4 linked regions of the Homo sapiens genome follow. The protein of the gene in region 3 interacts with the protein of the main gene of each other region in a pairwise test. Each region holds a gene or a part of one and is shown on either strand. Other genes may lie near its edges.

Region 1 (7,308 bases), on a different chromosome or scaffold from region 3:
TTACCCTCCCTTTTAGTGTTACGTTAGATTTTTGGTTAGTTACGCATTTTTTAAGATTACCAGTGTGGTATAAGTTCAGCATTTGTCCTTAGACATCATGTTTTAGTTATCAGTCATTATGTACTATAAAATATTTATTAAATATTACTTGTAACAATTATTTCCTTTTAAAGCATCAGAATTTTGAAGAACAAATGCAAGGCATGAAGACCCAGCTAATTCAGCTGAGTACCTTACTTCGATTGTTAGACAGTGGATTTTGCAGTTACTTAGGTAAGTTTAGTGAATCAGAACTATACCCAGCAAATTGTAGAGTAATGCATAGAAAAAAATGTAAAGAACTCTTTAAAGAAGCCAGGTGCAGTGGCTCATGCCTATAATCCCAGCACTTTGGAAGCCAAGGAGGGAGGATTACTTGCACCCAGGAGTTTGAGACTAGCCTGGCTAGCACAGTGAGACCCCATCTCTACAAGGAAAAAAAAATGCTGGCTGTGGTGATGCATGCCTGTAGTCCCAGCCACTCAAGAGGCTGAGGTGGGAGGATTACTTGAGCCGAGGAGGTTGAGGCTACAGTGAACTGGGATCACTCCACTGCACTCCGACCTGGGTGACATAGCAAGACACTGTCTCAATAAAAAAGAACTTAAAGACATATATACTCTATTGCACTTTCTTCGGTTCCATAAAAATGTGGAACCAAACTCTCTTTGTATAATTCTGCCTTAAACTTGATTCGTAAAATGTATTATTTGTTAGTTTTTAAAAAGAAGTCAGCCTTCAAGTTTGAAATGATTCCTTAACGTAGAAGACAAATGTATAGGGCCTTGAATTGCCTAAGATGCATAGGAAAGTTAGAGAAAAGTAACTGTATTCTGACATAATTAGCATAAGAGTAAGTCATATGTGTGTTTTTTTCTTCTGCATAGAATCTCAGGACTCTGGATACCTTTATTTTTGCTTCAGGTGGCTTTTAATCAGATTCAAAAGGGAATTTAGTTTTCTAGATATTCTTCGATTATGGGAGGTAAGTCCTTAAATTATTATGCAAATGTGATATTTATTATGAAAAGAAACAATTTATTCTGTAGAGTGTAAATGAATTATGATAGCCTTACTGAAATATCTAAGGCAAGTATGTTCCAAAATTCTGATGAACTGGTAGCCTCTTCTTAAAAATTAGTTTCACACTGAATATTTGGTCTTTTGGAGCTTCGTTCTTCAAATCACAATCTCTGTGAGATTTGGGGCCAAGAGGTATCCCAGAACAAGTGCTCTAGACCATTTGCTGCCTTTGTTCTTCCTTTGTGAGACTTGACTTTATGTGAGGCTTTGCCACATCTGTTATAGAGGATATTCTTATGTTTTTGGTGTACTCCTTTTGTTCCATTTTTTACCCAAGGCAACTCTTTATTTTTTCAACTTTTATTTTAGGTTCAGGGAGTACATGTGCAGGTTTGTTACATAGGTAAATTGCATGTTGCTGAGGTTTGGTGTGTGAATGATTCCATCACCCAGGTAGTGAGCATAGTACCCAATAGGTAATTTTACATCCCATGTTTCCCTTACACCATCCCCCCATGTGTAATCCCCAGTGTTTATTTTTCCATGGCAACCTTTAATGAAAAACCAAATCATTTCACATTTTCTAAAGTATTTGCTAATAATAAATCAGTGTGCTTTTTTTTTTTTTTTTTTTAAAGAGAAGGGGTCTTGCTATGTTACCTAGACTGATCTCGAACTCCTGGACTCAAGTAATCCTCTTGCCTCAGCTTTATAAGTAGCTGGGACTACAGGTCTACAGGTGTATGCCACTGTGTCCAGCCCAGTGTGCTTGTTCATAGAATGCTGGTATAATGATTGATCATACCTTAGGATAACAGAAATTCTTCCAAGGAAAGAATTGGGAGATAATCCATTTTGATTGTAAATCCAACTTTATACAGTGGAACTCTAGTGGTCTCTGAGGTTTTTACAGCTGGAAATGGATTCCTATACTATTGATGGCTGTGCTACCATTAGACAAGGCATTGTGCTGATTACAAGTTAAAAGTGGATTACTTTATGCTCACTTCCTCTGTTCTCAGATTAGAAGTAAAACCCACATGGTCTCTATCTGGAATCGTACTTAAATGTTTATCAGTTTTGTTAAATTAGTGTCTTAATTTGGGGGTTAAAAATGGGTTAATGTATTTATGCCTAGTGTTCCATTATTGGAACGCTAAGCATGTGGGAGTTGTTTATATCCTACTGCTCAAGGTCATCACCAAGGTCTGATTGAAAAATTCAAAAAATTGCATCCTCAGGCATAAATGGGTTTTAAAGGATGAATTAAGAATATTATTACCACATAGCTAGAATAACTCCTCAATCTGTGTTTACTAAATAAATTCAAACTTTTAATGAAACCTTTGAGGTTAATTGCATTGTAATTAAACTTTCAACAATTGGGTTTAGTTTGAAAATTATTCAACTTGATTTACTCCTTTTGAAAGAAGTAAACACATTTCGGGTATGATCTCATGGTATGGTTTGTGTGGGTGTTTTTATCTTTGTGGAAAATATATTATTAGGTACATGAAGCAGGGGGAAATTAAGACCCTAAATTCGAGGATATTATCTGTATTTAGGAACAGCTGAGCTGTTGATCAAGCGTTTTCTATGTTTGGTTATAAATTTGGGGCAGTTAATTCAGTTATTGTCACAATCAGGGATAAAATGTGATACAAGGGTTTTACGTATTTAGAATGTAGAGCTACCTCTGGGTGTTTCTGATTCCATGTACTGTGTAACTGAACCTTTTTTTATTTCCAGGACTTAGCTTTAGTCTTTTCTCAGATCGAAGTGAGAAACTGATACTTCAGAAAAATATTGAAAATACATCTAACCCTTACACCTTAACCTTGTGTCTGTAGCTCCTGCATTAATAACATTTATCATACTGGTTAGGCTCAGTAATTTACTTACTATAGTTACCTTAAAGAGCCACATTTAGAATATATCATATTCATATAAACTCGATGATAGTTACTTTGTAGCTGAAGGTAAGACTCTCCTTCCCCTCATTTCCTAGCTAGAAAAACCTTGGGCTACCCTAAACAGGCAACATCTACTTTGCATAGAAGTCATTCAGTGTTCAGAATTGTATCTGTGAGGAAAATGTTTTAGAATTGATACAATTTGCAAAATAGTTCTTCTGCCTTCTATAGGTAATGTGGACCGAACTACCATGTACAAATTTCCATCTTCTTCTCTGTTGTGCTATTCTGGAATCAGAAAAGCAGCAAATAATGGAAAAGCATTATGGCTTCAATGAAATACTTAAGGTAGTTATTCCTTTAATTCAGATTTTAGTGTTCTGGCTTTTCTATTTGGTGGTCCTGATATACAGAACGTTTCCTTGGAACATTATTAAATCTCTTGAGTAACTTAAATTGTGTCAATAACAGTGCTAGGAATGACTATCTGAGAATGACAGTTCAAATACATATTGGCCAGTTATTTTTACCTGGCTAATTAGGAAGAAAAGGAAATTCAACAAGTGCTCTTTTATGTAGTTTAGTTTTTCAAAAATTAATTGTCTTTTGATTATAACTTTGAGATATCAGACTTGGAATAGCTGCTGGATTTAATGTTCCATAAGCTTATTAGCTAGTCTTTAGCTTTAAAACTTGAAATAATCTAAAGAAAGATATATTGAATTTCTTACGTATTTGTAGTATATGAATGTTTTTATTTTAAGGATTTTATCTGCAGTGAAATATAACTGGTAATAAATTGTTTATATAATAGAATATAATAGTGTATTCAGTTTCGATATCATTTTATTTTGTTGATACTTTTTAGCATATCAATGAATTGTCCATGAAAATTGATGTGGAAGATATACTCTGCAAGGCAGAAGCAATTTCTCTACAGATGGTAAAATGCAAGGTATACAGTGTTTCAAGTAATTGCAAGATTTGTTTGTTTTTGGTGGGTTGAGATCAAGAAAGATTTTTCTTCTTGGAAATAAAATAGCAACTTTAGTAAGCTGAGGGCAGGCACAAAGTATTGGCTGGCTTTTTGTTTGCTGTTCTAGATTTACAGCACTTAATTGAAAACAGTTGACTATGGCAGATAGGAAACAGCTAATAATAAGGCAAAATGGTAAAAGTAATGAAAATATTTCTATAACAAAGAGGCTGTAGAATTTCAGCAATGATATATTACCCAGTTGAGCTCATGAATGCAGAATAGGCTGTCATATTAAATATGCAGAATCTCTAAACAAAAATGAATGCTAATCAGAAATAATTAAATCAATATTATTTAGCCTGTGTCACTCACTTATATTAGTCAAGTTATTAATTATTTTAAAACAAGGCAAATTTGATGTATTATCTGAATTTGAACCAAAGCAGTATACTTTTGATGTGTTTTAGCTTTTTCTTTCTATTAAGAGAAAGGGCCTTGCTAAGTTGCCCAAGCTGGCCTTGAACTCCTGGGCTCAAGTGATCCTCCTGCCTTAGTTTCCTGAGTAGCTGGGATTACCAGTGCATGCACACCACTGTGCCCACCTCATGACTTTGCTTTTTTTTTGAGACAGAGTCTTGTTCTGTTGTCCAGGCTGGAATGCAGTGGCGTGACCTCGGCTCACTGCAACCTTCTCCTCCTGAGTTCAGTCGATTCTCCTGCCTCAGCTTCCCGAGTAGCTAGGATTACAGGTGCCTGCTACCATGCCTGGCTAATTTTTGTATTTTTAGTAGAGACGAGGTTTCACCATGTTGGCCAGGTTGGTCTAGAATTCCTGACTTCAGGTGATCCACCCACCTCGGCCTCACAAAGTGCTGGGATTACAGGCGTGACCCATCACGCCCGGCCATGACTGCATTTTTTTTTTTTGATACTTCAAGTTCTAGGGTACATGTGCACAACATGCAGGTTTGTTACATAGGTATACATGTGCCACATTGGTTTGCTGCACCCCTTATGACTTTGCATTTTTATGAAAATTCTTGCTTGGTCCTTGTATCATTTGTTCATTGATCCAAACTGTTACTTGGTTCAGTTCTACAAACATTTATTTGATACCTGTTCTCTTCCAAAGCATGTCAATGAGATACTTCTTGCCTTGAAGAACTTTGTTTACTGAGAGAGACAGATGATCTAAGAAAGATATTATTACAAAAAGTAGAAAGAGATAAATGCCAAATATTAGGACATGCTATGTTTGTGGGAATGTGGAGGTGGGATGGAGAGTGACTAATTTGGAAGATATCCAAGAACCACTTAGGGCGAAAGGTGGTTAGCATTTCATTTGGAGCTGAGAAAAATGTTGTGAGAAGGGTACATGACATTTACACTGTTAGGACAAATGCTCAGATTCTGGAATCAATGTAGTCTTAAACAGAAGTGTTACTTTGTGGTTATTTTTCCTCTGTAGTGAAATATGGTTTTGAGTTTGATTTTTCATATCCAGGAATTGCCACAAGCAGTCTGTGAGATCCTTGGGCTTCAAGGCAGTGAAGTTACAACACCAGATTCAGACGTTGGTGAAGACGAAAATGTTGTCATGACTCCTTGTCCTACATCTGCATTTCAAAGTAATGCCTTGCCTACACTCTCTGCCAGTGGAGCCAGAAATGACAGCCCAACACAGATACCAGTGTCCTCAGATGTCTGCAGATTAACACCTGCATGATCACTGTTCTTGCTTTTTTGGGAAGAGACACTTTGTTGCAACCCTTTTTCAAGTACTTGAAAGTTGAAAATTTGAAATCTTGGTATTGATCATGCTTTAAGGTTTATGTAAAGAAAGTGTACTGATGTTCTTACATTAAAGCTTTACAAAGATTTAAACTAATTATTTTTGTAGTTACTTCTACCAAATAGCCTTTCCTTTTCGATAACATTCCTCAGTATTTTTATAGCCAAGTACATTTTATTTTCTTGCTGATGAACTGGAATTGGATAAATATTGCAAGTGGATGAGTTGGAAATTATGCACTTTGAAAAACATTCACTTTGTTTAAGCTTATTGGGTTTCAGATTTGATTAAATTAAATGTGGAGGCTTTCTATAGCATTCTAAGCTGAGAAGTAGATTGTTACCCAGTAATGAAATAAAAAATAAAAATAAAAGGATTTTTTTCTCTATTGTTTACGACAGTACTCAGCTTAAATATTTATGCTGGTCAAATGTGATTTAAATTGGACATTTTCATCAATGCAGTCTAATGTGTAGATAAATATTTCAACCATAATAAGTGGATTGGCAGTATATTTTTTACATTGAACTTTTCTTCACTTGTATATAAAGATTATATATAAGTACTTATTTATGAGTATAAGAAAGGTTAGGCATATTTTCATTAACTGAATAAACGACTTGATTTATATAACCTGGTTTATCAAAATTTAACATGGCTTCAGTATGAGATCTTTTTCAAAACTATTTTCTTAAACATTTATTTCATGAGATTATGTTCAACCCTGTACCTGGTGTAATTTTAAAATTAATTGCTTGTAACCTCACTTTACTAATAATGTTTATTATCTTTCCTAATAATGCATTAACTGATTAATCAGGTGTTTAAATTTTTATAAAATACTCTTGCAAAAAGTTTATTTGAAAAATTTCTAGATGGTCTCATGAGTTTCAAAATAATAATTTTTGTGTATGAACAAAGCTGTTGTTTTTACCATGCAGTATTGCATGATTTTAAGTTATGTGGAATTAACATAACTGATTTTGTTTTAATTGTAAGTTGTTAACTCCTGTATATATCATTAAAATAAATCTGAAGTTGAAGTAGTGTTTTTAGTTAAATTATACTTAGAAATAGTCTGCTTTTTTAAAATTTTTTTTCTTGAGAAAGAGTCTTGCTCTGTTGCCCAGGCTGGAGTGCAGTGGCGCAGTCCTGGCTCACTGCAGCCTCCGCCTTCTGGGTTCAAGCGATTCTCCTGTCTCAGCCTCCCGAGCAGCTGGGACTACAGGCTTGTGCCATCGCGCCTGACTAATTTTTGTATTTTGAGTAGAGATGGGGTTTCACCATGTTGGCCAGGCTGGTCTCGAACTCTTGACCTCAAGTGATCCACTCGCTTCAGCCTCCCAAAGTGCTGAGATTACAGGTGTGAGCCACTGTGCCCGGCTAATTCTTTAATAGAAGAAAAAACATCCAAGATGGACCTCAATTCATCTCTTATTTTTATATGATTAAAATGATAATCTGGCCGGGCGCGGTGGCTCACGCCTGTAATCCCAGCACTTTGGGAGGCCGAGGCGGGCGGATCACGAGGTCAGGAGATCGAGACCATCCCGGCTAAAACG
Region 2 (9,253 bases), on a different chromosome or scaffold from region 3:
TCGAGCCTGCAGTAAGTTATGATTGCGCCACTACACTCCAACCTGAGTGACAGAGAGCAATGTCTCAGAAAATAAAGAGAGAGAGAGAGAGATCTTATTAATACCATCCAACTGGCTAGAGATTCTCCCCCACCAAAAAAACAAAGACAGAATGATCAAAGTAGCAGGAGACCCTGTAAGTGTGCCCATATGCCCTCAGTAATGGCTTCTCATTATGAACAATGACATTAAGTATTATTATTATGCCAGAAGTTATGCTAAGTGCTTTATATACATTATTTCATTTAATCTTCATGATAACCCAGTGAAGGTTAATATCTCCACTTTATTGGTGAAGAAACTGACACTCAGCAATCCAAATTGGTTGTCCAAGATCAAGCATATTTAAATGTCAAAATCAATATTTGAAATTTGAATTCAAATTCAAAATATTTTCAAATTTTCTTTCTAATTTTTTCTTTGACCCAGGGATTATTTAGAAGTGTTATTTAATTTTTATAGCCGATCATACATGGTCTTATCTTGATACCATATGTACTTCAAAACAATGTTTTTCAGATGTTGGGTGTAGTGTTCTATAAGTAACAATTAGCTTTAAATCATTTATGCCTTTTTTGAATTTTTTTATCAATTGCTGAGAAATGAGAGTTAAAAATCTCTTCATATAATTGTGGAATTGTCCGCTTATTTTAATTATGTCAATTTCTGCTTTATGTACTTTGAAGCATTAATATTAGGTGTATATACATTTATGATTATTATGTCCTCTTGATGAATTGGTGATTTTACCTTTATGAAATGTCCCTTAGTAATCTTTTTTTTTTTTTTTTTTTTTGTGAGATGGAGTCTCGCTCTGTCGTCCAGGCTGGAGTGCGGTGGTGCAATCTCGGCTCACTGCAACCTCCGCCTCCCGGGTTCAAGCAATTCTCTGCCTTAGCCTCCTGAGTAGCTGAAATTACAGGCACCCGCCACCATGCCTGGCTAATTTTTGTATTTTTAGTAGAGACGGGGTTTCACCATCTTGGCCAGGTTGGCCTTGAACTCCTGAGCTTGTGATCTACCCGCCTCGGCCTCCCAAAGTGTTGGGATTACAGGTGTGAGCCACCACGCCCGACCAGTAATAATCTTTGTCTGGATGTCTACATTATCTGATATCAATTTAGCCACTCTAGTTTTCTTACTCTTATTGTTTGCCTGGTGTATCTCTTTTCATCCATTCATTTTCAGCCTGGGTCTTTATATTTAAAGTGCATTCTTTCAAGATAGCATATAGCTGGATCTTACTTCTTTTCATTCCTACAGTATCTGCCCTTTAATTGCAGTACTAGTCCATTAACATATAATGTACTTACTGATGTGGTTTGATATATGTCTACCATTTTATTATTTATTATTTGTCACCTCTGCTTTGTTTATCTTGTTCTTTTCCTGCCTTCCTTTGGATTATTTGAATATTTAAAAATTACATTTCATCTCTTGTATTTTGAAATTATAACACTACACATTATCTTTAGTAGTTGCTCTGTGATTACAATATACATTCTTAATTTTTCATAGTCTTCCTGGAGTTAATGTTGTATTACTTCACATAACATGTAGAAACACTGCAACTAAATAGATCAATTTACTCCCTCAGCCTTTAAGCTATCATCATTATATGTATTATATTTATATACTTTTGTAAAGCCGATGAGACATTGTTATAATTTTTACTTTAAACAATAATATGTATTTCTTCTTAAATTAAAGGCAAAACTATATCCCTTTTATCTACCCAGATGTTTACCATTCCTGATACTTCTTATTCATTCTGTAGCTTCACATTTCTGTCTGATGTCATTTCCCTCAGCCTGAAGTACTTCTTTTAGTATTTCTTATAGTACAAATCTGCTGGTAATCAATTCTCTTAGTTGCCTTTTATCTTTAAAACATCTTTATTTTTTTTTTAATTGAAGGCTAAATTCATTGGATATAGAATTCTGCATTGAGAGAACCTATTCGTGGGTTTTTTTTTTTTTTTTCCTTTTAGCCTTAAATAAATGTGCCACTATACTGGCTTTTAAAATTTCTCATGAAAATCAACAATCATTTGAATTATTGTTCCCCCATATGTGATATGTCCTTTTTCTCTGCCCTTTTCAAGGTCTTTGTATTGATCTTTCGTTTTCAGAACTTTTACTGCTTTAAGGCCAGGAGTGGTTTTTTTCACATGTACCCTACTTGGTATTTGCTAAGCTTTTTTGTATCTGTAATTATATGTCTTTTACCAAATTTGAATTTCTTTCAGCCATTATTTCTTCAAATAGTTTTTCTGCTCCACTTTCTCTCCATCTTCTTCCCTTCTAAGATTCTAACTCTGTGTGTGTAGACCTTTTGATATTGTCCCACAGGTCTTCGAGTCAGTCTTCACATTCTTCACCAATACTTTTTCTCTTTTATTTTTAGATTATCTTATTTTGATTGGTCTATCTTCACATTCAGTGATTCTTTTCTCTCTCATTTTCATTCTGCTCTAAATCCATCCAGTGATGGTTGTGTTTCAGATTTTGCGATTTTTAATTTCAGAATTTCCATTTGGTTCTTTTTTTGTATGTAACCTCTCACCTGAGATTTTCTACCTTCTCATTCATTGAGATAATATTTTCCTTTACATCATTGACCATAGTTATAATACCTGTTTTAAAATACTTGTCTGCTAATTCCACATTTGCAGCATTGTAGAAAAAGCCTTCTCTAATTGTCTTTTCTTTTGAGAATAGGCCATATTTTCTTGGTTCTTCATATGTCAAGCCATTGTCTATTGGATCCTGGATATTGTGACTATTATGTTCTGGAGAATCTGGATTCTACTATATGATGAATAGTTTTTATTTTTTTAAGCAGACAATTAATTTGGTTAGATTCAAACCATAAACTTTGTCTCTTGAGCAGCAGCTGAAATCTCAGTTCAGTTCTTTTCTACTTAGCTAGACTGCTTTGCACATGTGTGGCTCAAGGCCAATCAGATTTGTGTAAAGTTCATTCACAGGATCTGGGCTCTATTTCTCTGACTCTCTCTTTTTTTGGGTGATCTTCCCCTCACTGTTGAGGGACTATAGTTGTCCAGAACTCTGTATTCTTATTCTTCTAATATGAAAGATGGTATGTTTTATATGAGAATTTTGCCCACCTCATACTCCTGCCAACTGCAGATTTCCCTCAAGCTAAAAGCTATAAAGAATAGGAAACTCATGTACAAGTGCCAACTTCCCTCTAGAGTCTGTCTGATTTTGTTTACTCTCTAGTGTCATCATTGTTTCTTGCATTTCATCCAGAGTTTACAGTTGTTATTTGCAAAAGGGTCAACTTGATATGAGCTTCCTTGGCCACACTAGTGAAACACCTTAAGTGTACCTAAATCTAAAATCCATGCGCTGGGAGCTTGGGAAGATATAGAAAGACAATGTATAACTAGGTATTTCCGCCATCACAAATTTTAGCTTTTACTTTTCTTTATTAAAACCGCTTCTTTAATGAGTCAAACGCACACACACACACACAGACACACACACACACACACATACAACCTCACAATTTAGGATAACTTAAGAAAGGATTGATAAAAGTCTGAGACATGGGTTTGTTTCAACAAAATCATACATATATTCAAAGTGATAAATCTGAGCCTCAAACTATGCTGAAAAAGAACTGCCTAGTAAGAGAGGGGTAAGTGTCTCAGGGAGCATGATTTTCCTAAAGAAATGAGAAGCATTTGTTGTCAGAATATCACAGAATTTTAATGTGGAAAGGACTGTAGGAATGATCTAGTCCAAGCTACTCATATGTCTGTACATAAATTAATAATTCACTGATTCATTAAATAAACATTTACTGAATACCTTTGGATTATGTGCCAGGCACAGCACCAGTTGTAAGATGCACAATGATGCTTGCAAGGTTTTTTTGTTATCTCAGACTTCATCCCTCAATTTTATTGACATTATTTTGACTTTGAATAATGTATTTGATAAAGAAAAGATAATTTTATCTCAGACACTGTCCAAATGATTGAAAATCCTTCTAACAATGGACTCAAATTTTATAAGATTTTGCTAGATTTCTTTTGGTCTCATTGAAAAACAATATAGGCCGGGGGCAGTGGCTCAACCCCCATAATCCCAGCACTTTGGGCGGCCAAGGTGGGCAGATCATCTGAGGTCTGGAGTTTGAGACCAGCCTCGCCAACATGGTGAAACCCCGTCTCTACTAAAAATAAAAAAATTAGCTGAGCTTGGTGATGCGTGCCTGTAATCCCAGCTACTCAGGGGGCTGAGGCAGGAGAATCACTTGAACTCGGGTGTTGGAGGTTGCAGTGAGCCGAGATCATGCCACTGCACTCCAGCCTGGGCGACAGAGTGAGACTTCATCTCAAAACAAAACAAAACAAAACAAAACAAAACAAAAAATATATATATATGCAAGATTACATCTTTTGGGCCAGGATTGGCGGTTATGATTGTTTGTTTGACATTTATTTAGTGCCATCCTATCATCTGTACCTTCTTTCTATAGCCAGTTCCCAATTAAAAAAAAAACAACAACTCAGACTTGCATGGGGTGTTTCATTTATTCATTCATGGAATATTTATAAATACAAACGGTATTCAAATCATGGTCTGTAGTTCTGATTCCAAACTTGCTGACTTCTAAGCTAATCAGGACCAGTGAGGAAACAATCATAATCACACATATATTTAGTTGCTCCTAACTGGTAACCATAATTATTTTTAGCGAAACACATATAGTAAGTGTTAGTATACAAAGTTCAGGGAAATAACATCTCGGATAGTTTATTTCTTCAGTTTAAGAAGTACAGATATCTTCAATACCCCTGAGAAGTTGTTGCTTAATAAAGGTTTATAACATGAATAAATTATGATTCTGACATCAGGAGTCACATTAGAGTTGGGAAATGTGTTGTTATTATAGAGGAAAGAAGAAACCTAATGATAAAATATTTTCAGAGCATATATTCTCAGCATCAGTTTTTATTTGGATCACATTATTCTGTTATGATAAAGGTCTGTACAATTACTTCTGTTAAAAATTATTATTTCTTTTAAAAAATCCTGTTACATAATTTGAACTTGGTAGGCAATCAAATTCAGTATAATTTTACTTGCCAACAACGAAGCAAGCTTTCATATTAACAATTAATCAGAACTGAAAGGAATCCTAAAATGTCTGTATCATTTGTCAGCCACGTAAATGTCTCTATCTTTGGTAGGATGTAGCAAAATTAAACCCTTTTATTCAAAAAGAATAACAATCGCAAAGCAATTCTCAATATAGATATGGAGGAAATTGGAGCTCATTGTTAGTGGCTAGCAATGAATGGAGAGTTTTGATTTAGGAGAAAAGAGAACAGAAATGATATAAAAGTTAATTTGCAATTCTTCAATGTTAACAAAGCGGAAGAAGGAAAATTAGATGTTTCACTTTAGAGTTAAAGAAGATTTGAAACTTAATATTGCTTTCAGATTCAAAATTTACATTGAACATTTTAATTACCCTATGTGACACATTTAATGATTGTTCTTTCAAAAACAAAATAATATCCAGCATGTTTGGAAAGATTCCCTTTTATATTCTTGAATGGCTGTAATTGAGCTATGCTGTCTTAGTTTCCTTTTTTAAAGCTTTTTGATGAAAGTTTTTTCTCACAAATAGAAAATTTTTATTGTGATCACTTATATTTACAAAACTTGGTAATATAATTATGTGGTTAATATGCCATGGTTTTTACAGGGAAATATAAGATCTATTGTTCTCCCTTTACCAAACCAGAGAAACACATGATCTGTCTCATCCATCAGTAAACTCAAGTGGCCTTTTTTTCAGGCCACAGCCAAGAGATCAAAATCGTGTGACTGTGTGTTTGTTAGAAATCGCTGCAGTTCATTCACTCAGCAAGAGACGCATCATCTTTAAAACAAGTCTATTCATCACTGACTACAAATTCAAGGCCTTCACAGCACCTGTTCTGAGTAACTATGTACTCACAGCTGAAACCTTTACTCATACATTTATTTTGGGGCTGAGCAGCTTTAGCTCTAGAGAACTGAGAAAAAACATCCCACCTACTCTGCACACTTATCTCCTTTAGGTGACCTAATGCTGAGTTCTATAAACCCGGGGTGCATTTAAACAAAATGTTTTGCTTTTTATCCGCAGGAAGAGGCGCTTCAGCGGGCACGTGAGGAAGAAGAGAAAAGGAAGGAAATCACAAGCCATTTCCAGAGTACCCTCACGGACATCCAGGGCCAGATCGAGCAGCAGAGTGAGCGAAATATGAAGCTCTGTCAGGAGAACACAGAGCTTGCAGAAAAGCTGAAAAGCATCATCGATCAGTATGAGCTCAGAGAGGAGGTGAGAACCACATCAAACAACTTAGAACAGTACATAGATCCGGATCTGGGAGCTAAAGGTGGGAACTTGGTTAATAAGACAGTTACAGCCAGCCCTCTCAACTGATTAATATTTAGGATTGGATTTCCTTGACGAGCCAAAATGAAGACAGATGGTCTTACAAAATACCTGACTGAAAGTCATATGGGATTTCTTCAAAACTGGCATCACTACAAAGTAAAGGCAATAAATAGAAAGTGATAGGCTGTGGGCACAGTTTTCCTTGAAAATAATATTTCTCAGCCTTTTAAAAATCCTCTCTCTATAGCCAAAAATAACTCACGCACTCCCTCTTAAGAATTGCCATGTCATCTAAATTAAGAGTCTGTATTCTGGCCAGGCGCGGTGGCTCACGCCTGTAATCCCAGCACTTTGGGAGGCCAAGGCAGGTGGATTAAGAGGTCAGGAGTTCGAGAGCAGCCTGGCCAACATAGTGAAATCCCGTCTCTACTACAAATACAAAAAAAAATTAGCCAGGCGTGGTGGTGGGCGCCTGTAATCCCAGCTACTCGAGAGGCTGAGGCAGGAGAATCTCTTGAACCCAGGAGGTGGAGGTTGCAGTGAGCTGAGATCACGCCACTGCACTCCAGCCCAGGCGACAGTGTGAGACTCCGTCTCAAAAAAAAAAAAAAAAAAAAGAGTCTGTATTCTATGTACCCTACCAGGCCAATAATAGTATTAATAATGTAATCATTGTAATAATAATGATATCATTTATTCAGTGGTTAGTTTGTATCAGGCAATGTGCTAAGTGCTGTACTTTACATACCATATGGCATTTAATTGTCTCAACAATCTTATGCATTAGATAATAATATATTATCCATATCTTATAGATGAGAAGCAGAAGCTAAGAGATTAAACCACTTACCCACAGTCACAAGAGGCAAAAGCCTTTTACTTTGAATAGGTTATATTAGGGGGATGATCAAGGTCTTTTGTTATACCCAAATTATATTTTAATATTTAATATATTTTTAAGATTCCAGATACCCTCTCAGGATTTTGACACATCATATTCCTTTCCCTATCCCACCCAAATTTTAAATCTCTGCTTTAAAATGTAACATAACATAGTCAAAGCGGCTCTGTTGGTAACATGCTAAGATTTTATCAAGCACAAAACTGAGCCAACAGCATATGGTCGCGGTGGTTAGGTAAATCAAGAAACTCCTAATAGTAAGCCAAAATGCCATGCTACCATTTTATCTTGTCATAAGGATCAATCCCGCTCCAGAATGGAGGTTCAGACTAAAGAAGATAGGAAGGAGTGAAAGGAAAATGTCCATATTCTTCAGAGAGATCTCAGATGGGAATGGGCTGCTATGCTAGTTGTATATTCCTGGGACTGGTTCTAAGTAAAGCCCAAGGGGAGAATTCCATGTCCTGTTTCTGATTGGACCTCCCAGTGACCAGGAATTTATCCATCCTGAGGTAGAGTTGGAAGTTTCTCTTGACCAAACTAGTCCAGAGGTCAAAAGGTGTGGCGAGCTCTGCACATTTGCGACTCAATTTCTCTATGACCCTTGGCCTTGTCATCTCCACCAGAGCAACAGAGTAGAATTCAGGGGGGCTCAGGCCTCACTCCCAGACCTCGGACCACATGCTGGCACCCCAAGGCTTTCTCACAACGCCAGAGGCAAGAATGCAGAGAATTCATCATGATAAATTGCACAAGTGTTGCAATTAAAAGTGGTTTTATATTCACAGAAAGAGCCAAAATACCAAATGATACAACTGTAGCCCCTGTATATTGTATACTGATACATCATTGTCTGTGCTGTCTAGCATAATAAATAGCATCATATCTAATAGTTACCAAACGTAGAAAAATATTGTATGGATCTTTTGGCATTGACACTGCTGAACTCTGGTGCCTCTACCTTTTATAGCTAGCTTTGTGTGTGTGGTGCAAAGTCAGGGGGAGGGGTTCACCAATTTACAGCTTTATTATAAAGCTGTAAGTGATGCCAATGCATTTATCCCTCTCTTCTTTTAAATCTTAAAACCTGGGGAATGTGTATTAATGTGAATTATTTTACTTTGCATTTTTAAGCACCAATAATAAACCAAGCTTTCTATGTACACTTTATTTTTCTTAGCATCTGGACAAAATATTTAAACACAGAGAACTGCAGCAGAAGCTGGTGGATGCAAAGCTTGAGCAGGCCCAAGAAATGATGAAGGAAGCGGAGGAGCGACACAAACGAGAAAAGGAATATGTATTTATCATTTTAGTCGTTGTGCATATCTGGTCTACCTCAGTGTCAGAGACACTCTGAGCAAGTTGTTTTGTATTTATTTATTTATTTATTTATTTGAGACAGAGTCTCGTTCTGTCATTCAGGCTGAAATGCAGTGGCGTGATCTCAGCTCACTGCAACCTCAGCCTCCAGGATTCCAGCGATTCTCCTGCCTCCCCAAGTAGCTGGGATTACAGGTGCCCACTACCACAACAGGCTACTTGTTTTGTATTTTTAGTAGAGACAGGGTTTCACCATGTTGGCCAGGCTGGTCTTGAACTCCTGACCTCAGGTGATCCGCCTTCCTCGGCCTCCCAAAGTGCTGGGATTACAGGTGTGAACCATCGCGCCTGGACGCAAGTTGTTTTTATAATGGTCAAAGAGCACTAGACTGATGGAGAAAGAGCCCCAGCTTCTATGGAGAACTAAATTAGCCAGCCCAGTCTGAGGCACTATGTCTACACTACTTTCTACATAAAATAGTCATTCATCTATTCCACACATATTTTTCAAGTGCCTGTTATCTACTAAGCACCGTGTTAGGTGCGGGGACATAGCCGTGA
Region 3 (9,253 bases):
TATCTGCATTTATTTATTCTGCACAGGAAACCTTTCCTCTTTGAAAGAAAAGTTTATATTATATTTAAAAGTTTGGAGACAGTTCCATGCTTAGCAGTTGTTCTAGTGAATCTAAACCTAAATGTTGATGTTCTTCCTTTATACCATTGTAGGGATCTGGTTAAAAAAAAAAAAAGGCTCTTTGCACTGAAATCTTGATCGGTAATTTATACAAACAGTATTTGTCTATCTCTTCACCTCTCTCCTACCCTCTCTCTGGCTTATGGGAAGTTTTTAGCATCTACTTTATTTGACTACAGTATATAGTACAGGATTTGGACCTGTACTGTAAATAATAAAATCTTTAAATCTGCAATAGATAGATTTCCCAGAGATATTTCTACTTGTATTTCTAAAGTAAAATTGTGTGATTTTACCTTTAGAAATATTTCGAGTAAGGGAAGTTTACCTCTACAGATTATTTATATTCATCTTCAATGTGTAGATGAAGTACCAGCCAGGATGCTGGATTAAAACTTGTAAAAACTAAAAAGTTTGGAGCTAAAACCCAATACTGCTGGGATGCATAGCCTAAAACATAGTAGTCAGTAAACGTATCATTCAGAGAAACCAGTTTGAGATGCATTATATTTGTTTACCTCTTTTAACTCAGGAAGTGTCCAAAAACTGATGACAGAACCAATCTCTCCTCCCTTATAAGCACCTTTTCCTCCAATAAACAAAAGACCACAATTTCCCCATTTCTCTGAATTTAAAGAGCATTTTATGGTCACGATGACTAATCTAAATATGAATGTTTATAATGTTAAAACAGAATAATTACAACATGCTCTAGGTGGGGGGGGGAATTTAAACTACAAATTTAGTGATTTTGAAATTCTAATTTCTAAACTTCCATCAGAAATATAATAATGCATTATAGTTCCTATTTCCTATGTTTTAAATAGGAAATAATTCCAGCCAGGTTGCGGTTGAATTTCTGTGTGAGTAGGTAGAATACTGTAGCATCTCTTCTCCTGAGGAATCCCTTTACTTTATCCATTCTTTTCTATTTATTTATTTATTTGAGACAGGTTCTTACTTTGTCACGCAGGCCGGAGTGCAGTGGTGCGATCTTGGCTCACTGCAACTTCCGCTTCCTGGGTTCATGTGATCCTCCCATGCCACTGTGCTCGGGTAATTTTTGTATTTTATTTGTTTGTTTGTTTGTTTTGAGACAGAGTCTCATTCTGTCACTAGGCTGCAGTGCAGTGGCGCAATCTCGGCTCACTGCAACCTCCAACTCCCTGGTTCAAGTGATTCTCCTGCCTCAGCCTCCCGATCCCGAGTAGCTGGGATTACAGGCACGCGCCACCACGCCCAGCTAATTTTTGTATTTTTAGTAGAGACGGGTTTCACCATGTTGGCAAGGATGGTCTCAATCTCCTGACCTCATGATCCGCCCACCTCAGCCTCTCAAAGTGCGGGATTACAGGCGTGATCCACTGCACCCGGCCAATTTTTGTATTTTTTATAAAGACAGGGTTTCGCCATGTTTCCAGGCTGATCTCGAACTCCTGAGCTCAAGCGATCTGCCTGCCTCAGCCTCCCATAGTGTTAGGATTACAGGCGTGAGCCACCACTCCCAGCCTCTCAATTCTTTCTTACCCCTTCGCAATATATATATATATATTTTAGTGAGCCAATGCTTTATGTTTTTATGGAAATAATAGTTTCATTTTAGTCTTATTCATTGATTATTTTATCATTTCCCTTTTACCTATTGATTGATAGTCTGTGTTTCTAGGCTCAGCTTGTCAATCGGAAACAGAAATTAGAGTCTGTGGAACTTTCTAGCCAATCAGAAATTCAACACTTAAGCAGTAAACTGGAGCGGGCTAATGACACTATCTGTGCCAATGAGTTGGAAATAGAGCGCCTCACCATGAGGGTCAATGACTTGGTTGGAACCAGTATGACTGTCCTACAGGAGCAGCAGCAAAAAGAAGAAAAATTGAGGGAATCTGAAAAACTATTAGAGGTATGTTTTAAAATCACTATAATTGGGGGAAGTGTGTGTATGAGTATTTTAAGAGAGTGTTATTAAGCTAGAACTAGGTTCTACAATCCATACTTTCTTCCCTACTTTATAAATGATGGATCAGATATTGATAGTTTTACTAATATTGTGACTTTATTACAATATTTACAATATTGTAATATTGTTACGTAACTTATAGTCTGACTTCCTGGCTTCTCGTGAAATAGAAAAATTGTAATAATAGCTGGCTTAGAAATTTCTGAGTATTTTGCAGGTTCTGCAGGAATTAAAAAGAAGGAAAATTATAATCATATTTGACTTTTTTGCAGGCTCTGCAGGAAGAAAAGAGAGAATTGAAGGCAGCTCTTCAGTCTCAAGAAAATCTCATACATGAGGCCAGAATACAAAAGGAGAAGTTACAAGAAAAAGTAAAGGCAACTAACACTCAACATGCTGTAGAAGCTATAAGGTAAATTTAATCTTAAATATTATTCATCTTAGCCACTTAATGACTAGGTATTAAGCACTAGGCTTATTTTTATTTTTATTTTTATTTTATTTTCAGATAGTCTCCTGTTGCCCAGACTGGAGTGCAGTGGTGCAATCTCAGCTCACTGCAACCTCAACCTCCGAGGTTCAAGCCATTCTCCAGGCTCAGCCTCCCAAGTAGCTGGGACTACAGGTGCATGCTACCACACCTGGCTAGTTTTTTGTATTTTTAGAGACGGGCATTCATCATGTTGGCTAGGCCGGTCTTAAATTCCTAACCTCAGGTGATCTGCCCACCTCAGCCTCCCAAAGTGCTGGGATTACAGGTGTGAGCTGCCACGCCCATCCAAGCACTAGTTTTCATATTGCATATTCATAATTTTATGTTTGATCATATTGTGGATTTTCTTAATTGGCTTTAACTTCTGAGTTAGGTTTTTAAAGTGTTATAAAATTTTGTGTGGTTAATTTTCTTCTGCCACCAGTTAGGGTCCCTAACAGAGACTCTCATGTTTAGAAAGTTAGAAACCAAGGTCAGTTTGCATGCTTGGTGAAAATCCAAATGTGCAGGGAATTGTCATCCATGTCTCCTGGAGGCCTCACTTTGTTGGTGGAATAAGTTGTGATTAGTAGCTGCTTATCATTAATAGCAGCCAGCCATTGGGCTAGCCCTCTTGCTTGATTTAAGTCTGATGCACACTTTTATTTTTGCCAGAATTCTCCTGTAACTTTTCAGTTTTTTTGGTACAGGGTTTCAAGTGTCACTGAAGTGATTTTGCCATTTTGTCTTTTTCCCTTGAAAAAAGGCCAAATCCCAGTTAAGAAGGGAGTAAATTGCTACTTTTTGAAGTATCAGCATCTCTTGACTCTTTCTTTCCTCTCCCAATATTCTTTTTATAAAGCAGGAGACAAACTTGAAGAGTTCCAAAGAGGTTACCAAAAATGATGGGGAAACACAGACTAGATGAGCATTATTTTTGTTTGCAGAGATAAAGGCGTTAACAATCATCCTATGTCTTTCCATAGGCCACGGGAAGAATCTCTGGCAGAAAAGAAGTACACCTCTCAAGGGCAGGGGGACTTAGACAGTGTGCTCTCCCAGTTGAATTTTACCCATACTAGTGAGGACCTTCTGCAGGCAGAGGTGACTTGTCTTGAAGGCAGGTACATAATTATACACACATTTCAAAAATTTCAAGTTGTTAAAATGAATTTTTGATCATCATATTGTAAATGAATGTAATAGTCATAGTAAAAAAAATAAGATTTTTTTCTAGTATCCACAAATGGCCTAAGTTCTTATTTCTTTTTTTTTTTTTTTGAGACGGAGTCCGCTCTGTCACCCAGACTGGAGTGCAATGGCACAATCTCAGCTCACTGCAACCTCCGCCTCCCGGTTCAATTGATTCTTCTGCCCCAGCCTCCTGAGTAGCTGAGATTACAGGCGTGCACCACCATGCCTGGCTAATTTTTATATTTTTGTAGAGACGGTGTTTCACCATGTTGGCCAGGCTGGTCTTGAACTCCTGACCTCAGGTGATCCACCTGCCTTGGCCTCCCAAAGTGCTGGGATTACAGGCATGAGTCACCGCACCCTGCCCTAAGTTCTTATTTCATTGAGAAGACAGAAGCAATTAAAGGAGAACCTCTTAATCTTTCTGTCATCAAATCTACCAGTCTGCCCATACCTGTGCCTTTCTGCACTTCTAAGACCAACCACTCCACTTGTGTCCTTTTTCTGTAGTTATATCCTTTCTCTTCTGCATCATCAAGTTCTTTCTGTCTGCTGAATCTATCCACTGGTATAAAATACGCTGTAACATCACCCATCTGGGGGAAAAACCATCCCTTAATCCTATGTCTCCGTCAAGTTATTTCCACATTTCTGTACTTCTCTTTAAGACCAAATTCTTCAAAAGAGTTGTCTATACTGACTCTACTTCTTTACCTTTCACCTGTTTAGCAGCCCTTCACTTAGGTTTTCCTCCTTGCCACCTCAGAAGCAGGGTAGGAAGGGGTAACAGTTGACACATGGTGATCCTTTTTGTTCTGCTGTGGTGTTGTTACTTCCTTGGGTGTTAATTGAATCCTGACTAATGCTATACCATACCCACCTAAACACTTGTCATTGTCGTACTTATAGAATTTTTTTTGGTTTTTCATAACCTCTCAACTTTTTGATTGGGAAGAGTGTGATATCTTGTTTTAAACACATGAATCATGATCATTTGTACACTGACATTTTCTGTATGTAAAAGATAAAATTGCTTTTAACATGAACTGTTAACCTTTAGGCAAACAACAAGAGAAATATCATTTTACACTTTTTAGGTTATCTTTAAGTAATACATTTTTTGTTTTTACATTTATTTCTGGTTTTGGAAACCAGTAAGTATTTTCTTACTTTTATCTACATGTTAAATACACAAACATGCATACACACACATATTTTCTGCTTTATTCCTTTTGGAATACTTGGAGTACTTGAGATAGTCTTTGTTATTATTGAAGTATATGTGTACTCTTCCGTTTGACTAAAATTAAGTTTATTATTTTTGACGTTGGGACAACAGTTTACATTTTTATCACAGTTTTTTTATTGATTGGCTTTTTAGTAATATTTTAAATGACTGAGGTGATGTTTAAGATATTGGCTGGATATTTTTTGGATATCAAGAATGTAAATTAGATAGTCCAATTTATAGGTTTCAGGATTTTGGTTTTAAGTATGGGATCTTATTTTTGTCATACAGTTTGGAATCTGTGAGTGCAACGTGTAAACAGCTGAGCCAAGAACTAATGGAAAAATATGAAGAACTGAAGAGGATGGAAGCACATAACAATGAATACAAAGCAGAGATTAAGAAGGTAAAAATCTGCATACCTAGGATTGCAAAATTGTATGTGTTTATGGACAAAGCTGTGGATTGGGAGATTATAGGGGTTATTTTTAATGAGAAAAAAATGTAGTTCAAGGGACCACTTGATATTTAGGAGTGGAAGAGTTTGTGGAATGTGCATAGGGAAAGTGCCTTCTTTCTTTGGCATCGCCCCTGATGCCCAATAAATATTTTTAAGATAATTGAAGGCTGTCCCCTTTGAACTCAAAAACTTTATTTTAAACATGTTTTGATGAAAAGTTTTCTAAAAGACATACACTCTGTTGCTTGCAAAAAAATATGAACTGTCACTTAATATTTTCTTATTGCCTAAAGATAGTATTTATGTATTGTCTCCTGTGCTATGATGTAGTTAGTATCCTTGTCAGCTATTGAGGTATGCAGAGCTGTTTGTGTCTATATGAATGGGCCCTAACTGTCCTATTTGTTTGATTTGTATTTTTTGTTACTTCTTTAAGATTACTTCTAGTTCCTTACTTCCTCTTGTTCTATTTGTTATCCTGTGGACTAAGATACCATATGAGCAAAACTTTTAGATTCACAACTAAAAAAAAGAATGAAGGTCACAAGTACTCTCCTCTAAATTGTGTGCATGGACCTTGATTCTGGTCCTCAGCACTTGAATAACCCATCTCTCCCTGTTTTGAGGTATAATAAATGATTGTAGGTATAACCACCTGACCTTCAGTACAGATATGCAACTTGGTAAATTGCTAATTTTTCTGCAGATTTAATTTAAGAGAAATTTAATGTCTTGAGATAAGGTGAACTTTTATTTTATTAGCTAGTAACATATTATTCTATCTAAATGCTTTCTCTTAACTTTTGGTGCTTTCTTTTCTGCTTCTTTATAGTTGAAAGAACAGATTTTACAGGGTGAACAAAGTTACAGTTCTGCACTAGAAGGAATGAAGATGGAAATCTCCCATCTAACTCAGGAGTTACATCAGCGAGATATCACTATTGCTTCCACCAAAGGTTCTTCCTCAGACATGGAAAAGCGACTCAGAGCAGAGATGCAAAAGGCAGAAGACAAAGCAGTAGAGCATAAGGTGAAGCCTGAACAAAACCTTTTTTAAATTTGAAATTTGTTTTAAAGATGGAGTTGATTAAAGACATAATTTTCATAATATTTAATTCAGTGAATTTTTATTAGATACCTGCTTTGAGCTGAGAGTATGCTGGCTAGCAAAGAGTTTAGTGAGCATGGTGGGGAGGTGAGAGTAGACACAGACAAGTAAAGTGACTGTATCAGTGGTGTATGGTGAGAGTCACTAGAGATCACAAGCAGCCTGAATCTAGACCACTCGCTGCAAAGGCCTTCCAGAAGGTGTGATAGCAAAGCTAAGTTAGGAGCAAGCTGGGTGATGGGGAGGAAAAGTGTTTCAGGCACAGGAAAATACAGAGGTCTCTAAGAGAGAGTAGAAACACGCTTGCTGTGGTTGAAACTAGAGTACAAGTGGGATGAGTGGAAGGTATGAGACTGGAAAGCAGGGACTGGCTGCTGAAGGGCTACGTTAGCCACGTAAAGGAGTTATACTGTGACCTTGAGGTCAGTAGGGAATGGCTGCAAGCAGGAGTAAAATTCAGTGGTCCTTAAATGGAGAATAAGCAGGGAGACAGAGCACCCAGATGCTGTTACAGTGGTAAGATGGTGGCCTGAGCAGTGGGCAAGGGAGGCAGAGGGAAATGGATGAATTCTGGAGATACTGGGCTGGTAAAAATGACTGGGCATTGTATTTGATTGGCAGGGAAGGTGAGGTAGGCAGAGTTAAGGAATGGTGCTCCACAGGATTTAAACTTAGGCAACTGATGGAAAGTGATGCTTTTTAATGAAATAGAGAAAAGACAGGGAGCAAGTTTGGTGAAGGATGATGAATTTGTGTGAAAAGTACACAGACTGGGGAAACTGGTGGAGAGGACATTGGTTTGACACATTTGTTTGGAATAAAGGCTGGAATTTTGTATGGGTAATAGTCAATTCCACAGAAGGCCTGGAGTTGAAGATTAAAATCAGGATTAGGCATTTAGCTGTGGCTGTCCTTTCTTCATGGTGACATTTGAAACCCCCTGAGAGACTTAATGATTATAGTGAGAAAGCATAGCGTAAGAAGAGAAGTGACTCAAACCAAACTTAGGATACTTCTCATTTAGTGTAAAAAAGATGTTGGAATGAAGCTTAAAAAAAGGAGCAGTGAGGAGGGAAATCAGATAGTTTTTGCCAAGCCAAGGAAAGAAGGAATATTTTCAAATGGGAATGGTCAAGCACAAAAGCTGAGGGGAATGAGAACTGAATATAAGTTGTTATTTTGTGAATAAAGTACAATTCCATGTGACGTTGCAGGTAGAAGCCAAATTGGAGGAGGCCAGCACAGGAGAATGGGTAGGGATTTAAGGGGTTCAGTGGATTGAAACTTTGCTGCTTTGTCACCTGATTTATCCTATTAGAATGATATCTTCATCCCATTCATGTTCATTCACCTTAATAACATCTTAAAAATCTTTTTAGAAAGTCCATATATATATATATATATATATATATATATACACACACACACGTACATATATATATGTATATATATATATAAATATGTATATGTATATATATATAAATGAAGAATATGACTTAGCCTAATGAAAATTCCATGTGGAAAAATTTTGTAAGATGCATGTGATTTACATGTTATATTTATTTTTTTCTGTTTTCCCCTTTTCAGGAGATTTTGGATCAGCTGGAGTCACTCAAATTAGAAAATCGTCATCTTTCTGAAATGGTGATGAAATTGGAATTGGGTTTACATGAGGTACATAAATAGAAACTTAAGTTTTTCTACTATCCAAGCCTTCAAAAAAATTACTTTGTAAATATTTACATTATAAAGAGAGAATTAAGATCAACTTAGATCCTTTTGCAGAAATTTTCTCAAAGAAAATGAAGGTAAAACAATACTGGAAGTGAGCAAAATATGACTCTCCACTCCAGCAGCAGGAAGGGTTTTTGTTTGTTTTTTTGAGACGGGGTTTCACTCTTGTTACCCAGGCTGGAGTGCAATGGCGTGATCTTGGCTCACCGCAGCCTCCACCTCCCGGGTTCAAATGATGCTCCTGCCTCAGCCTCCTGAGTAACTGGGATCACAGGCATGCGCCACCACACCTGGCTGATGTTGTATTTTCAGTAGAGGCAGGGTTTCTCCATGTTGGTCAGGCTGGTCTCGAACTCCCAATCTCAGGTGATCTGCCCGCCTCAGCCTCCCAAAGTGCTGGGATTACAGGCATGAGCCACCGTGCTCGGCCAGGAAGGTATTTTTTTATATTATGTATGTGATAAAATTTACCTACAGTCTGTGTTCTTAGTTGGAAGAATGTATATGAAGGACTTAGCATATAGTACATAGTACCTGACACTTAGTAAGTATGCAATACATCCTAGATGGTGGTATTATTATTATTATTATTATTGTTAATGATTATTATGTTTGTTATCTTTTTAGAAAGTATATTGTCTTTAAAATAATTTAATTTTAATTTTATTTCTACAAGATATTCACATAATAAAATATTTTAGAATCTTTTATATCCAAGGACTTTTAGTAGGTGCTATAATGAACACAGGCTGAATAAGATAGCATTCTTGCCTTTAAGAGAGATTTTGGATCAGCTGCAATTACTCAAATTACTCTAGCCTTTAAGAGACTAGAGTAATCTAGTAGCAAGGATAAGAAATGCATACAAGCTTCTGTGAAACCAGAGAGAACATGATTAGCCAACAGTGAATTACAGTATAGATGCTCTTTTAACTGTTTTGTTACAAAATTCCTATAATTTGCAAAATGACTCATCTATT
Region 4 (3,166 bases), on a different chromosome or scaffold from region 3:
GAATCACACCTGGGTTCCAATCCCAGGGCCTCCACGTTGAGCTGTGCAACCTGTAAGCACTTACCTGCCGACTCTGTGTCTCCATTTCTACCTGTGGGGTCAGGGGCAAGCTGGAGTGACTGTTCACCATAATAATTCAGGTCACGGGGCCCCCAGTAAGCACTCGGCACACACCACTGCCGGTAGCAGCAGTGAAAGCCTTCACATTAACCGCGTGGCACATGTGAAGAGCTGACCTGGGCACCTGACCTCATGCTTGAGTTCTGCCCCTGACTTGCTGTGTGTCCTCCGGTGGTTCACCTGCCCTCTCTGGACCTCTGTTTCCTCACACTTAGAACCAGATAGACTAAGATCCCTTCGAGAACTGTAACCACCCTAGGGTGCTACAGGCCCTATACCCCCAGTCAGCTCTTACGTGTTTCCTGGGAGCCACATCACCCTGGTACTCATGGCCACGGCTGAATGGCACGAAAGCTGGGGCTCTGAGGAGTCTGCCAGGGCTCTGCTCCACGGCAAAGGGAAGGAATGGGCTCCAGGTGGTCCCACCATCCATCAGCCGTGACCCTGGCTTACCCCCCTGAAAACCTCAACCCAGTCATCCATCGCCTCTTCCAGGAAGCCCTCTCTGGCCCTTTACAACCAACCTTTGTTGCCTGTACCCCTGTCCACAAAGCCTGTGCCCCTGGGACTGACCTCCCAGGACCTTCCATTCCCCATTGATCCAGCACCCAGGATCCCCGTGCAGTGAATCAGCCCCATCCCGACTGACATTAGTGCAGACATCCTGCCCTCCTCCATACCCAGCTGGAGCCCAACTACCTGTCTTTAACAGGTCCCTGCTGCCGGGTTTCGGGACCTGGGAACAGTAGCCACTGGGCTGGGTGGGAGTGGGAGCTACCATGTCTGTTGTTCCTTAATGCATGGGGACACGGGAGGACGCAGAGCCAACCCCGCCTCTCCCTGCAGCTGATGGACGCAGTGATGCTGCAGCTGACCAGAGCCCGAAACCGGCTCACCACCCCCGCCACCCTCACCCTCCCCGAGATCGCCGCCAGCGGCCTCACGGTCAGTGCCCCTGCCAGCCCCTGCTGCAGGAGAGGGGTCCCACAGTGGGTCCCAGCTTGCCCTCAGGATGGACGCGGAGGGGTGCCACTCCCAGATTATAGGTGGAATATTCTGTCTAGGCAGGTTTCTGGGATGGGGTCCTTGGCTTCCGTCCTGTGCCCCTAAAATACGTTAACCCTGTTTCGGGTTAGTGGTTCCCAAACCTGACAGCACAGGAGATACTTGGGGCACCTGGGAAAAGTCTGGAAGCCCCCATTGATGAGAAGAGCATCTCTGGGGTGGGGACTGGGATCCCCTGCAGACTCCATGAGTGACTGCAGAGCCCCGCTCCATCCAGCCTGGGCTGGGGGCTTGCGAGGGCCTCATCCCACCTGCCTCCCGCAGCGGATGTTCGCCCCTGCCCTGCCGTCCGACCTGCTGGTCAACGTCTACATCAACCTCAACAAGCTCTGCCTCACGGTGTACCAGCTGCATGCCCTGCAGCCCAACTCCACCAAGGTGAGGAGGGACCCCTGCCCGGCCCACTGCCCGCCATGCACACGCCCTGCAAGGCCTGACGGGTCTGGTGCTGTTCTCCCTAGAACTTCCGCCCAGCTGGGGGCGCGGTGCTGCATAGCCCTGGGGCCATGTTGTAAGTAGGCAGGGGCGGGGGGTCCAGGCACGCCCACCCCATCCCTCCACACCTGGAGGGCCGGGACCCTCCTCAGGGACCCTCTCACTGCCCACAGCGAGTGGGGCTCTCAGCGCCTGGAGGTGAGCCACGTGCACAAAGTGGAGTGCGTGATCCCCTGGCTCAACGACGCCCTGGTCTACTTCACCGTCTCCCTGCAGCTCTGCCAGCAGCTCAAGGACAAGGTGGGCCCGGGCCGAGCGCCTTCATTAGGGGAAGGACTTCTAAGGGTCCTTGCCACACCCTCAGAGCGCCCCAACCTTGGGGTCTGGTGTACCCCACAGCACTGCGAGGCAGCAATGCCCTGTCCTGACATATTGTCCTTGGGTGACCTTGACATCTCCCCTGGGCTACCCCATCCCCCTTCAGCAACCTACAGCACCCTCTCCCCTTGCAGATCTCCGTGTTCTCCAGCTACTGGAGCTACAGACCCTTCTGATCACAGCACCCAGGAGCTTGTCTCCAGGAAGGCGGCCCCGTCCCCTACTCATACCCACCACAGAGCACCAGCCAGTGCCAACGCCAGGCTGCTATTTATCTCCCTATCCCACCCCCTACCCCACCTAACACATTTGCACTGCCGGGAATGGACACTGGAAGTGCCAGGAGGAAGGAAGGCTGGTTTGGTGGGGTAGTGGGGAGGTCAGGGAGGCGGGGCCAAGGGTGTCCCACATTCCCAACACCGCCCTCTGATCACCATGGGAATCTTTGGACTCAGGACAGGGCCAGGCGCAGGGCTCTCCCTCCTCTCCCCTTCGCTGTCCCCTCCCCCTGGAGGGCATGGTGTCGGGGGGTGGCACTGAGCTATGAGTCCCGGGGATGGTGAGGAACGCCACAGACAGAGCCACCCTAGGAGTGAGTATAGTGCTGGTGACTGTGTTTCATAGCCCCAGTCCAGGGCTGTCTAAGAAATAAAGATCATCAGACTCCACCTGGAGCCCCTGTCTGTCTGTCTGAGTGGGAACCCAGGCAGGGGGTCTCTGGTAGTCAGTGGCCATGAGCTTCAGGAGCCAGCCGTCTCCCCTATTCCCGGAGCCTGGCTTCCGCGTTCCCTGTGCCATGCCAGGGCAGGGCACAGAACCTACTGTCGAGAGGGGACCCTCGGGCTGCCAAGAAGCCCATGGGGTGGCGACAAGAGCTCTACCTGGGACTTTGGGCCACCGAGTCTTTTTTTTTTTTTTTGAGACGGAGTCTCGCTCTATCGCCCAAGCTGGAGTGCAGTGGCGCGATCTCGGCTCACTGCAGGCTCCGCCTCCCGGGTTCAAGTGATTCTCCTGCCTCAGCCTCCCGAGTAGCTGGGACTACAGGTGCCCGCCACCACGCCCGGCTAATTTTTTGTATTTTTAGTAGAGACGGGGATTCACCACGTTAACCAGGATGTTCTCGATCTCCTGACCTCGTGATCCGCCCACCTCGGCCTCCCAAAGTGCT

The links.
Region 1: the proteins of CEP63 (region 3) and TBC1D15 interact in binary tests that used the Homo sapiens proteins (3 or more experiments, as listed by UniProt).
Region 2: the proteins of CEP63 (region 3) and TXLNB interact in binary tests that used the Homo sapiens proteins (3 or more experiments, as listed by UniProt).
Region 4: the proteins of CEP63 (region 3) and ROGDI interact in binary tests that used the Homo sapiens proteins (3 or more experiments, as listed by UniProt).

Annotation. Positions count from the first base shown.
Region 1 is NC_000012.12:71,917,525-71,924,832, forward strand, and holds the end of TBC1D15 (TBC1 domain family member 15), read left to right. Parts: intron 1-173; coding exon 174-273; intron 274-926; coding exon 927-1,024; intron 1,025-3,188; exon of another isoform or gene 3,189-3,206; coding exon 3,207-3,323; intron 3,324-3,843; coding exon 3,844-3,930; intron 3,931-5,458; coding exon 5,459-5,680; 3' UTR 5,681-6,789; downstream 6,790-7,308. UniProt on the Homo sapiens protein: Acts as a GTPase activating protein for RAB7A. Does not act on RAB4, RAB5 or RAB6.
Region 2 is NC_000006.12:139,259,734-139,268,986, reverse strand, and holds part of TXLNB (beta-taxilin), read left to right. Parts: intron 1-6,213; coding exon 6,214-6,408; intron 6,409-8,549; coding exon 8,550-8,669; intron 8,670-9,253. UniProt on the Homo sapiens protein: Promotes motor nerve regeneration. May be involved in intracellular vesicle traffic.
Region 3 is NC_000003.12:134,543,800-134,553,052, forward strand, and holds part of CEP63 (centrosomal protein of 63 kDa), read left to right. Parts: intron 1-1,786; coding exon 1,787-2,020; intron 2,021-2,349; coding exon 2,350-2,489; intron 2,490-3,535; coding exon 3,536-3,673; intron 3,674-5,262; coding exon 5,263-5,377; intron 5,378-6,263; coding exon 6,264-6,461; intron 6,462-8,126; coding exon 8,127-8,213; intron 8,214-9,253. UniProt on the Homo sapiens protein: Required for normal spindle assembly.
Region 4 is NC_000016.10:4,796,468-4,799,633, reverse strand, and holds the end of ROGDI (protein rogdi homolog), read left to right. Parts: intron 1-966; coding exon 967-1,065; intron 1,066-1,449; coding exon 1,450-1,563; intron 1,564-1,646; coding exon 1,647-1,696; intron 1,697-1,772; coding exon of another isoform or gene 1,773-1,793; coding exon 1,794-1,920; intron 1,921-2,132; coding exon 2,133-2,174; 3' UTR 2,175-2,666; downstream 2,667-3,166.